3 linked regions of the Homo sapiens genome follow. The protein of the gene in region 1 interacts with the protein of each later gene in a biochemical or structural test. Each region holds a gene or a part of one and is shown in the gene's direction. Other genes may lie near its edges.

Region 1 (5,183 bases):
ACACTCTAGTGACTGCTTCTCTAGCTAGAGTCATATCATCCTGTCCTCTTTCTATAATACCTTGTGATGCCTTTAAGCAAGATAACTTTGTTTCTCACTTGACTGTCAAATCACTTACAATCTGACTTCTCCCTACCCACAGCCCCAGAATACTTTCTCCTAGGTAGCCAGTGCTGTCCTTTTACCAGATCTAGAGAGGTTTACTTTGCCAGCATTGTCTTTGGCTTGTTTATGCCATCTGACACTGTTGACCCTTCCTCCCTTCTTGAAACTGTGCTCTTCTTTTGCCTCCATGACTCTCATTTTCCTCCTTCTTTCTATGTGGTTGCTTATTCTTTAGCCTCCCTTCCTCTTTTCAATTCTTAACTTACAAGTATTTTCAAGGCTCTATCTCATTCTTTATATAATTTTCTTGAGATCTCACCCACTTTCGTGATTTCAACCGTCACCTCACCGTAGAGAATGTCACTATTTAGTTCCAACTCTGACATCATTGAGACTCCAGATCTGTATCCCCCTGGCCCATGGGATATCTTCACCTGGATGAACTGTTGGTACCTCAAGTTCTGTATGTCTCTAACTTATCTCTATCCCTCACCTTTTCCCATAGATCTGCTTTCCCTGTGTGGTTCCACTAGGTAATCCAAGCTTGAAACCTGAGCCATCTTTGGCTTTTTCTCTCCTTTATCCTCCACACTTAATGAGTTGCCAAGTCAAATATCTCTCACTTTCATTTCCTCTGCCACTATCATAGTTCAGACAAGCCAAATGACTACCTAACTGTTGTTTTAGTCTCATTCCTAGTCCTTATGCTTATAACAGGTATGCTGCCTTGTTTATTCTCTAGAGTTCAGCTCTGATTATGTCATTTTTCTGGGAAAATGCCATCAGGCTTTCTTAACCAATACAGTAAACATTACCACCATTCACCTCACTGTGACATGAAAGTCATCTTTCATTCTTCTTTCCCCTCACAATCCACATCTAATCTATTAGCAAGTTCTATTGTTTCTGCTTCTAAAATATGTAACTAATTCATTTACTTATTTTCATCCTCACTATTACCATAAATTTATTTTCCACAGAGCAGCCAGGCTTATTTTTTGAAAATCAGATTATGTCACATACTGACTGAAACACTTCCATGGCTTCCCTATCATCTATAAAGATCCAACTCTACAGGTTCCTCACAGCCCTACTGGAGCTGGCCCTCCCTGCTCTCTCCCCAGCCTCATCTTGGGTCCTTTTTCTCACCTATCATGTTTCAATACATTGGATTTATTTTTACTGATTTCCTTGAAATGGCAGCATTTGAAAATTCCAATTCAGGGCCTTTTTGTACATGGCATTTCTCCTATCTGAAATAGCTTCCCCACCATCCTTAAGTGGCTGACTCCATCTTTCCTTTCAGTGAGGCTTTTCCTGGCCACTCTGCTATGGCAGTTCCTCCTCATTTTTCTATATCACTTCCCTCTCTTTTTTTTTTTTCCCCTTTGCAGCACTATATTATAATTTGTGTTGCTGATTTGTTTAGTGTTTATCTGTCCCACCTGAGTGTATACTTCATGAAGGTAAGGACTTATATAGTTTATTATATATTTAGTGCTCAATAAATATCAGTTCTAAAATGACATGAATAATTAACAAAATTTATTTCTTGTCTGTGTCACTGCTGAAAATTGGCAAGTCAAACACGTACCATATATGCTTATAATAATGTAAAATTAAAAATGTGACTTGGCTTTTTATAATTGTGTGTGATATGAAAATATTTATGCAGCATTTCCCCCCTTCATCTTGAAGTAAATACAAATATTTTTATGTTTATTGTGGCATTCTGAGCACTTCCTGGGAGTTAGAAGACCTGGATTCTAATTCTGGGTCTCCTACCAGCTAACATTGTGACCTTGTAGTCACAATCTCTAATTTCCTCGTCTATAAACTCAGAAGGTTAGAATACATGATAATCAGGAGCCCAGCCTGCTATAAAATTCCATGAAAAGTATATTTTTAAACACAGTATTTAAATATAATTTTTCTTTTCTTTCTACGTAACAATCAAGTTCTTATTCTACCTGGGAAAGCTGATGTTATCCCACTACTTTAAAAACAATTTTTTTTATTTCCATAGGTTACTGGGGAACAGGTCGTGTTTGGTTACATGAGTAAGTTCTATAGTGGTGATTTGTGAGATTTTGGTGCACCCATCACCCAGGCAGTATACAGTGCCCCCAATTTGTAGTCTTTTATCCCTCACCCCCTTCCCACCCTTTCCCCCTGAGTCCCCAAAGTTCATTGTGTCATTCTTATGCCTTTGCATCCTCATACCTTAGCTACCACTTATGAGTGAGAACATACAATGTTTGGTTTTCTATTCCTGAGTTACTTCACTTAGAATAATAGTCTCCAGTCTCATCCAAGTCACTGTGAATGCTATTAATTCATTCCTTTTTATGGCTAAATAGTATTCCATCATATATATCACATTTTCTTTGTCCACTTATTGATTGATGGGTATTTGGGTTGGTTCCATATTTTTGCAGTTGCAAATTGTGCTGCTATAAACATGCATGTACAAGTATCTTTTTTGTATGATGAGTTCTTTTCCAATGGGTAGATACCCAGTAGTGGGATTGCTGGATCAAATGGTGGTTCTACTTTTAGTTCTTTGAGGAATCTTCACACTTTTAGTTCTTTAAGGAATCTTCCATAGTGGTTGTACTAGTTTACATTCCCACCAGCAGTTCCCAGTTCATTGCATCCACACCAACATCTAATATTTTATGATGTTTTGATTATGGCCATTCTTGCAGGACTAAGATGATATCACATTGTGGTTTTGATTTACATTTCCCTGATCATTAGTGATGTTGAACATTTTTTCATATGTTTGTTGGCCATTTGTATATCTTCTTTTGAGAATTGTCTATTCATGTCCTTAGCCCACTTTTTGATGGGCTTCTTTGTTTTTCCTTGCTAATTTGTTTGAGTTCATTGTAAATTCTGGATATTAATCTTTTGTCAGATGTATAGATTATGAAGATTTTTTCCCACTCTGTGGGTTGTCTGTTTACTCTGTTGACTGTTCCTTTTGCCGTGAAAAAGCTCTTTAGGTTAATTAAGTCCCAGCTATATATCTTTGTTTTTATTGCATTTGCTTTTGGGTTCTTGGTCATGAAACCCTTGCCTAAGCCAATGTCTAGAAGAGGTTTTCCAATGTTATTTTCTAGAATTTTTATAGTTTCAGGTCTTAGATTTAAGTCCTTGATCCATCTTGAGTTGATTTTTATATAAGGTGAGAGATGAGGATCCAGTTTTATTCTCCTACTTGTGGCTTGCCAATTATCCCAGCACAATTTGTTGAATAGGGTGTCCTTTCCTCACTTTATGTTTTTGTTTGCTTTGTCAAAGATCAGTTGGCTGTAAGTATTTGGCTTTATTTCTGGGCTCTCTGTTCTATTCCATTGGTCTATGTGCCTATTTTTATACCAGTACCATGCTGTTTTGGTAACTATGGTCTTATAGTATAGTTTGAAATCAGGTAGTGTGATGCCTCCAGGTTTATTCTTTTTGCTTATTCTTGCTTTGGCTATGCGGGCTCTTTTTAGGTTCTATATGAAGTTTAGGATTGTTTTTTCTAATTCTGTGAAGAATGATAGTGGTATTTTGATGGGAATTGCATTGAATTTTTAGATTGCTTTTGGCAGTATGGTCATTTTCACAATGTTGATTCCCACCCTATCAGCATGGAATGTGTTTCCATTATTTGTTTCATTATTTGTGTCATCTGTTATTTCTTTCAGCAGTGTTTTGTAGTTTTCCTTGTAGAGGTCTTTCACCTCCTTGGTTATGTATATTTCTAAGTTTTTGTTTGTTTGTTTGTTTTTCAGCTATTGTAAAAGGGGTTGAGTTCTTGATTTGATTCTCAGCTTGGTCGCTGTTGGTGTAAAGAAGAGCTACTGATATGTGTATATTAATTTTGTATCCAGAAACTTCGCTGAATTCTTTTATCAGTTCTAGGAGCTTTCTGGAGGAGTCTTTAGGATTTTCCAGGTAAACAATCATATCATCAGTGAACAGTGACAGTTTGACTTCTTTACCTATTTGGATGACCTTTATTTCTTTCTGTTGTCTGATTGCTCTGCCTAGGACTTCTTCTAGTACTGTGCTGAAGAGGAGTGGAGAGAGTGGGCATCCTTATGTTGTCCCAGTTCTCAGAGGGAATGCTTTCAACTTTTCCCCATTCAGCATTATGTTGGCTGTGGGTCTGTCATAGATGGCTTTTATTACATTGAGGTATGTCCCTTGTATCAATTTTGCTGAGAATTTTAATCAGAAAGGGGTACTAGATTTTGTTGATTGCTTTTTCTGCATCTATTGAGATGATCGTGTGATTTTTGTTTTTAATTCTGTTTATGTGGTGTATCACATTTATTGACTTGCGTATGTTAAATCATCCCTGCATCCCTGGTATGAAAACCACTTAATCGTGGTGGATTATCTTTTTCATATGTTGTTGAATTCGGTTAGCTAGTATTTTGTTAAGGATTTTAGCATCTATGTTCATCAGGGATATCAGTCTATAGTTTTATTTTTTGGTTATGTCCTTTCCTGGTTTTGGTATTAGGGTGATACTGCCTTCATAGAATGATTTATGGAGGATTCCCTCTTTCTCTATCTTGTAGAATAGTGCCAATAGTACCAGTTTTTCTTTGAATATCTGGTAGAATTCTTCTGTGAATCTGTCTGGTCCTGGACTTTTTCCTGCTGGTAGTTTTTTAATTATTTCAGTCTTGCTGCTTGTTGTTGGTCTGTTCAGGGTATCTAATTCTACCTGAATTAAGCTAGCAGGGTTTTATCTTTCAGGAATTTATCTATCTACTCTAGTTTTCTAGTTTATGTGCGTAAAGGTGTTCATAGTAGCCTTGAATGACCTTTTGTATTTCTGTGGTGTCAGTTGTAATATCTTCCATTTTGTTTCTAATTGAGCTTATTGGATTTTCTCTCTTCTTTTCTTGGTTAATCTTGCTAATGGTCTATCAATTTTATGTAGCTTTTCAAAGAACCAGCTTTTTGTTTCATTTATCTTTTGTTTTTTTTGTTTGTTTATTTCAATTTCATTTGTTTCTGCTTTGATCTTGGTTATTTTCTTTCTTCTGCTGGGTTTGGGTTTGGTTTGTTCT
Region 2 (3,500 bases), on another chromosome or scaffold:
CTCCCCAGTAGACCATCTGAGTCCCATGAGACTGCAGGCCCTGTGTTTTCTCCATCTCTCTCTTTAAGTACATTATTGCCTCTGCTTTACATTGTCAGGAACAGTTTTGAGATTTAAATGATATATAACCTGAACTGAATACTGGTTCTCTTTGCTTCCATTTGTTATGCCTTTTTTCCTTGTTAAATGAATGTGTATGCATGCATGTGTGTATACACATGTACATATCATGATGGTCCTCAGAATGTTTCAGTACAGAAGGTAGAATGCTTCTGCTACATTTGTAACTCACAGGTCAAGTCAAATTAATTTTCTTTCTTTTTTTTTTTTTTTTTTTTTTTGGAGACAGGGTCTCCCTCTGTCACCCAGGCTGGAGTGTAGTGGCGTGATCTCAGCTCACTGCAACCTCCCCATCCTGGGCTCAAGAGAGCCTCCCACCTCAGCCTCCTGAGTAGCTGGGACTACAGGTACAAGCCACCACACCCGGCTAGTTTTTGTTTTTTTTTTTTTGTAGAGATGGGGTTTTGCCATGTTGCCCAGGCTATTCTCGAACTTCTGAGCTCAAACAATCTGCCTGCCCCAGCCTTCCGAAGTGCTGGGATTACAGGTGTGAGCCACCACACCCAGCCAGTGATTTATTTCTGATATTATATTTACTACAAGAATTCTTTTCTATGTGTGAAAATTCGTTTTATATAAATGGAGAAACACTGTAGCTCTGTATTGAAATGTTCCAAGGATCATTGTGGTAATTCTGCTTTCCCTAATCTTAAATCCAACCAAAATTATGTTTTCAATAATTCCCATTAATTGTTATTTAGCATTACATGTGTGTATTTGTAGCCTTATTTTCATTCTGTCACCTTTTAAACCTACGGATGGATAGTTTCTTTAGTGTGGATTTTTAAAAATAATCCCTTGTACATCATACTTAGGACTTGACAGTTTCTGTGGAATTTGTATTACTTACTCATAACTAGAGTGAATGTTTATTGGGAACACTTCATCATCAACTACTGGTGGCATCTAAGTACTATAATTATATGTATAGATCAAATAAGTAGTTTATTTTATTTATTTAGTTTTTTAGAGACGGGGTCTCACTCTGTCACCCAGGCTCCATGGAGTGCAGTGGTGTGATCATGGCTCACTGCAGCTTCGAACTCCTAGGTACAAGTGATCCTCCTGCCTCAGCCTCCTAAAGAGCTAGGACTATAGGCACATGCTTCCATGCCTAATTAAAAAAAAAAAAATTTGGCCAGGTGCAGTGGCTCACACCTGTAATCCCAGCACTTTGGGAGACTGAGGTGGGCAGATCACGAGGTCAAGAGATTGAGACCATCCTGGCCAACATGATGAAACCCCGTCTCTACTAAAAACTAAAAAAAAAAGATTAGCTGGGTATGGTGGCGCACACCTGTAGTCCCAGCTATTCGGGAGGCTGAGGCAGGGGAATCACTTGAACCCAGGAGGCAAAGGTTGCACTGAGCCGAGATCGTGCTACTGCACTCCAGCCTGGTGACAGAGTGTGACTCCGTCTCAAAAAAAAAAAAATTTTTTTTTTTTTGGTAGAAACAGGATCTTGTGTTGCCCAGGCTGGTCTCAAACTCCTGGCCTCAAGTGATCCTCCAGCCTCCGCCTCCCTAAGTGCTGGAATTACAGGCGCGAGCCACCATGCCTGGCTCGTAGTCAGTTTTTTTTGTTGTTGTTGTTTTTGAGATGGAATCTCACTCTGTCGCCAGGCTGGAGTGCAGTGGCGCAATCTCGGCTCCCTGCAACCTCTGCCTCCTGGGTTCAAGCGATTCTCCAGCCTCAGTCTCCCGGGTAGCTGGACTACAGGCGCATACAACCACGCCTAGCTAATTTTTGTATTTTTAATAGAGACGGGGTTTCACCATGTTGGCCATGCTGGTCTCAATCTCCTGACCTTGTGATCTGCCCGCCTTAGCCTCCCAAAGTGCTGGGATTACAGTCATGAGCCACCGAACCCAGCCCAGTTTTTTGTTTTTTAACCTTACTACTGTCAGGGTTTGAGCAGAATAAATGGAATGTGACAGTGATCTGCTTTTTCTGAACTTTATTCCATAGTAGAATCTCAAAGTAGTTGAGTTCTGCTCTTATTTGTGTTCTAAATACTTGGTAAAACAAAACAAAAATTTGGATTTTCTTTTTAAAAAACACATACACACACCAAAAACACAAGACACATCAGATGAGTGTTATGTTGGGAAGGCTGCTTATGTGGAGACGTTACTTCTTTTTTTAATCTCTAGAGTAGTTTTTCAAATGTTACATAATGGTAGTAATTTAATTTAGACTCCATCACATAGAATTTTGAAACAGTTTCCTTTAACTAGTTTTAATACTATTCTGCATTTGCTCAAAAATATTATTCAATCTGTTTAATCCATAATATCAAAATATATCATTTAAATAACCTTCCCTAGCCAAGGAATGACAAGAATTAAGACTAGAACTACATCTCTTAAGTCCTAGACTAGTGAATTTCCAAAGTGAGTAACAAATTATCTTTTATACTTTGAAAAATTTGAAGGTTTTAATAAATTCAAGGTGGAAGTACTTTTTATTCCAGGTTTTAAAAACATTGATTTACATTGAAGTCAAGAAGTGGTATGGAACATACCCAAAGAATGCACGTTTGCCCTTGAGTCCATACCTACACCAAATGCCTTGCAATCCTTGCCCACTTATATTTTTATCATGGTATGTTTCAGGGTTTATACAGTGAATGATAATGAAATGAATAATGAAATGTCCTTAATACTACAACAAAATATAGCCTTGTCCAAAATGAAGAGTAAATCAATACTATATTATATGTCTGTATAAACTGGTCGTGATAGGAGTAGACCAGGATAATAGAGATGACGTGGACTTTTTTTTTTTTTCTTTGAGACAGGGTCTCTGTCACCCAGCCTGGGGTGCAGTGGTGCAATCTCAGCTCACTGCAGCCTCAACCTCCAGGGCTCAAGCAATCCTCCCACCTCTGCCTCCCAAGTAGCTGGGACTATAGGCACTTGCCATCAACCTGGCTAATTTTTGTATTTTTTGTAGAGATGGGATTTCGCCTTGTTGCCCAGGCTGGTCACAAACTCCTGAGCACAAGCGAACCACCTGTCTTGGCCCCCCAAAGTGCTGGGATTACAGGTGTGAGCCACCGTCCCCAGCCTCACATGGACATTTTGAAATAAAACCATATTCTTCCTTTTGTTTTATGTTTATTATGGATTACAAATTTATTTGGCAATTAAAAGTAACAGACCACTGGACCGTATCATCTCGTGAGTAGCTGAACTGTTGGATAATACTTTTATACTCTTTGATGCTAAAATATAATAAAATTGCCTAAATTTTGCGTGAGATGTTACTTCAATATAATAGAGTTTTTATATGCTATTTGGGTACGGTAGATTTTTCCAATGTGATCTTATATAACTGTAGTTAGTGCTTTTTTGCCTTTTATTAATTTAAATAATTAT
Region 3 (3,500 bases), on another chromosome or scaffold:
TTCATGATCACAGGGGTCGAAGTGGGTTCTTCTCGCTGTCTGCTGTTTCTGCGTGTGGTCACAGAACTGGTTGCACCAGATCTCCAGTCGGGGTGGCGTCAGTGAAGCATCAGAATGCAGGCTTTCAAAATATCCTGGGTTTTCCAATAGTGATGATATTCCTAGGAAGAGTTGGGGAGGTTTGGAATCTTGTGGCCTCTGGCTGCGTGACTCCTAAACCATAATTTCTAATTTGTGGCTACTTTGTTAGTCTTACAAACGCAGACTGCTCCCAGGCAAGAAGGGGGTTCGTTTCGGGAAAGGGCCGCTATCATCTCTGTTTGGAAGTTAAACTATAAACGAAGTTCCTCTCAAAGTTAGTGTGGCCTATGCCCAGGAATGGACAAGGGCAGCTTGGAGGTTAGAGGCAAGATGGAGTCCATTAGGTCAGTTCTCGGTCCCTGTCTGAGTTTTCTCCCTGTTGTCATTTTTGTAGAGGCAGTTCCAGCCCTACGTGCCCTCTCCCTGGGGTCCTCGTCCCTGGGCCTGGGTGTTTTGAGACACCAGCCCCACATTTGCCCTGTGCCCTTCCCTGTGTCCTGGTGGTGCTGTCCCGAGTGGTTGCCCTCTGACCCGTCCCCAGGGCTCAGTGATTGTGACCTGCTGCTCTGACGGGGCTCTCATATCTCCGCCCAGGGGTCTTCACCGAGTGCTACCGGAAGGACGAAGAGAGAGCCCAGAAACTGCTCACCCGCGTGTCCGAGGCCTGGGGGAAGACCACCTGCCTGCAGCTCGCCCTGGAGGCCAAGGACATGAAGTTTGTGTCTCACGGGGGCATCCAGGTGACCTCCCAAGAGCCCCTTCCAGAAACAGACGCCTGTGGTGCCTGCAGGGCGGACACAGCCTCCTGTTCGTGCAGTTGGCACGCACACTCACACAGGCTTCAGGGCCCTCAGCAGCTCGGGGACAGCGCCTGACCCCTCGGCCACCTGCTCCAGGCTCTGGCCTCCCATTTTGCAGATGGGGGGAAGCTAACATGAAGCAAAAGCAGGAGCTGGTGGCCATGGAGATCGCAATTCACCTCCCCATGGATGTTCCTACCTGGGAGCGGCAGGCAGAAGCCCAGGTGGCTCTGGGAACGGCGTCTGCCCTCTCTCCCTGGAGGGATAAGCGGGACACGGCGTGTCCTCCCTGGAGCAGCAGGGGCTCCCAGGCATGGCTGCCCTCAGCATCGCCCTGGAACCCCCGGCAGGGCCTGGCTCCCAGCGAGTGCCCCTTGCACGCTGGGCTTCCTTGGAGCGCCGAGCTATTGCCAAGTCCATGAGCTCCCGTCATGTCCTGGGCTGTGCCAGGCCTAGGGAGGCCTGGGGAAGGGTCCTGTCCCCCACTGCAGAGCTCAGAGGGGCCAGTGCTCTACAGCCTGCAACTGCGGGGCCTTCGAAGCCAGCAGAGATGGGGTCCCATAGCTTGAGGTCAGGTGAAAGGCGGGATTGGACACCCAAAGCCCCAGGGCAAGCTCTGTGTCTTCACCACTTTCTGCTGTGAGACTGCAGGCTAGCTCTGTCCACTAGGCACCCCGAGTCCTCAGCAGACAGCTGACGGGCACCATCTGGGGCACAGGGCTGGGCACTGCCATCCTGAGACTGCCCCCATCCGCAGGCCTTCCTGACCAAGGTGTGGTGGGGCCAGCTCTCCGTGGACAATGGGCTGTGGCGTGTGACCCTGTGCATGCTGGCCTTCCCGCTGCTCCTCACCGGCCTCATCTCCTTCAGGTGCTGCAGGGCTGCGGGGCTGCGGGACTGTGGGGCTGCGGGGCTGCGGGAGAGGCTCCTGGGGGCTCAGGATCTTCCCTAGATCCCCTCGCTGGGAGCAAGTCATGTGTCCTCAGAATTGTCCCTGGATCCTGGGGCTGTAGAGATGGGGGTGGGAAGCAGAGCAGGGCCCCACGTGCTGGAAGCACCTGCCTTGCCCCAGCCCCAGCACTGATCTCATGATGCTGATGAGCCCGTCCCTCAGCCACATCAGCCTGGGGTTGGGGAGGCCAGGAAAGATGGTCTCCTGCTCCTGCCGGCACTGTAGACCTGAGCCAGTCTGCGGCGTGGGCAGTTAGTGCAGGTCTGGGATGCGAGCAGCGAGCTGCGGCTGAGTGCCTCCCTGTCCTCGCAGCCGCAGAGCCTGTATTGATGGAATCGCTTTCCCTTATGAAGGAGGAGGACACGGCTGGCCATGGTTGAAGACCTGGCCTGGCCTGGTGTCCCCACCTGCACCTCCTCAGAGGCTTGCTGGGGCGTTGTGGGATCTGCTGTGTTTTACTGAGGGCTGGATGGAGGCTCAGGGTCTCCTGGGAGTCAGGGCAGATTCAAGACCCCAGCGAGGTGGCTGAGCCCCTTCTGCAACCCGCAGTCCACACTGCCTGCCTCCTTCCCTTTCTCCTCACGGCCAGGATGGGTACTTGAGTGTTCAGGAATCCTGGTGGGAAACTGAGGCAGGGAGGAGCGGCTCAGGTGTCCTAAAGCAGTGCTGGCTTCTCTCCTGCTCTCCCGAGGATGGCAGAGCCGTGTCACTGATGGCCGCCTCTGCTCCCGTTCCAGCGGCCCGGGGATAGGGACCTGGGATCAGGGCACACCACAGGGGGAGTGTGGTCAGCCCCACCCCCATTGAGGACGGCAAGGAAAGCCTGTCCCCATTTACAGGAGGGTGACTAAGGCCTGAGCGTCCACTGAGCACTGGGAGCTCTGAAGCTGGGGCCCACCCAAGGCTGGGCTTGGGGCAGGCTGGGCCTCCCTGTTTGCAGCCATTAAGGTCATGGCCATGGGCAGGGCGTCAGCGGGCATCCCTGTGTCCTCACTTTGCTGGGCTGTGGGGTCCAGCCCCACCCCGGTGGCTGTGTGTGAGGCTCCCAGGCTGTGCTGTGCCGGCTCCGCCTGTAGCTGCCGTTATGGCCCCGGATCCCTGAGTGCTTTTGCCTCTAAAAGCACATCTCTCTGAGGGGCACGGGGGATCACGGGGTGGCCAAAGCCTGTGGAGGTCAGGACCCTGGCCCTGGTGGTCACTGTCTCCTCTCTGCTGTGACGGCCGCAGGGAGAAGAGGCTGCAGGATGTGGGCACCCCCGCGGCCCGCGCCCGTGCCTTCTTCACCGCACCCGTGGTGGTCTTCCACCTGAACATCCTCTCCTACTTCGCCTTCCTCTGCCTGTTCGCCTACGTGCTCATGGTGGACTTCCAGCCTGTGCCCTCCTGGTGCGAGTGTGCCATCTACCTCTGGCTCTTCTCCTTGGTGTGCGAGGAGATGCGGCAGGTACAGCCCCACCCGCTTTTCCACGCCCCAGCCCGGGGCCACCCACTTGGCTGCATTCTCATAGGGGACCCATGGCTTAGAGCCCACCCCATCTAGCCTGCCCAGCTCCCTGCAAGCTGAGCAGAGCCGGTGTTTCCTCCCCAAAATGGGTGGCTGGGGCGCTGCCCTCCAAGCCCCTCCCTCCTCATGCCCCCTGCGCCTGCTTCCCTGCTTTCCCTCGGCC

The links.
Region 2: the proteins of EFHC1 (region 1) and SMURF2 interact in a surface display test, tested with the Homo sapiens proteins (one large-scale study listed by IntAct).
Region 3: the proteins of EFHC1 (region 1) and TRPM2 form a complex in vitro, tested with the Homo sapiens proteins (one study listed by BioGRID).

What each region holds. Positions count from the first base shown.
Region 1 is NC_000006.12:52,426,079-52,431,261, forward strand, and holds part of EFHC1 (EF-hand domain-containing protein 1), read left to right. Parts: intron 1-5,183. UniProt on the Homo sapiens protein: Microtubule inner protein (MIP) part of the dynein-decorated doublet microtubules (DMTs) in cilia axoneme, which is required for motile cilia beating.
Region 2 is NC_000017.11:64,557,808-64,561,307, reverse strand, and holds part of SMURF2 (E3 ubiquitin-protein ligase SMURF2), read left to right. Parts: intron 1-3,500. UniProt on the Homo sapiens protein: E3 ubiquitin-protein ligase which accepts ubiquitin from an E2 ubiquitin-conjugating enzyme in the form of a thioester and then directly transfers the ubiquitin to targeted substrates.
Region 3 is NC_000021.9:44,398,621-44,402,120, forward strand, and holds part of TRPM2 (transient receptor potential cation channel subfamily M member 2), read left to right. Parts: intron 1-675; coding exon 676-821; intron 822-1,638; coding exon 1,639-1,751; intron 1,752-3,060; coding exon 3,061-3,277; intron 3,278-3,500.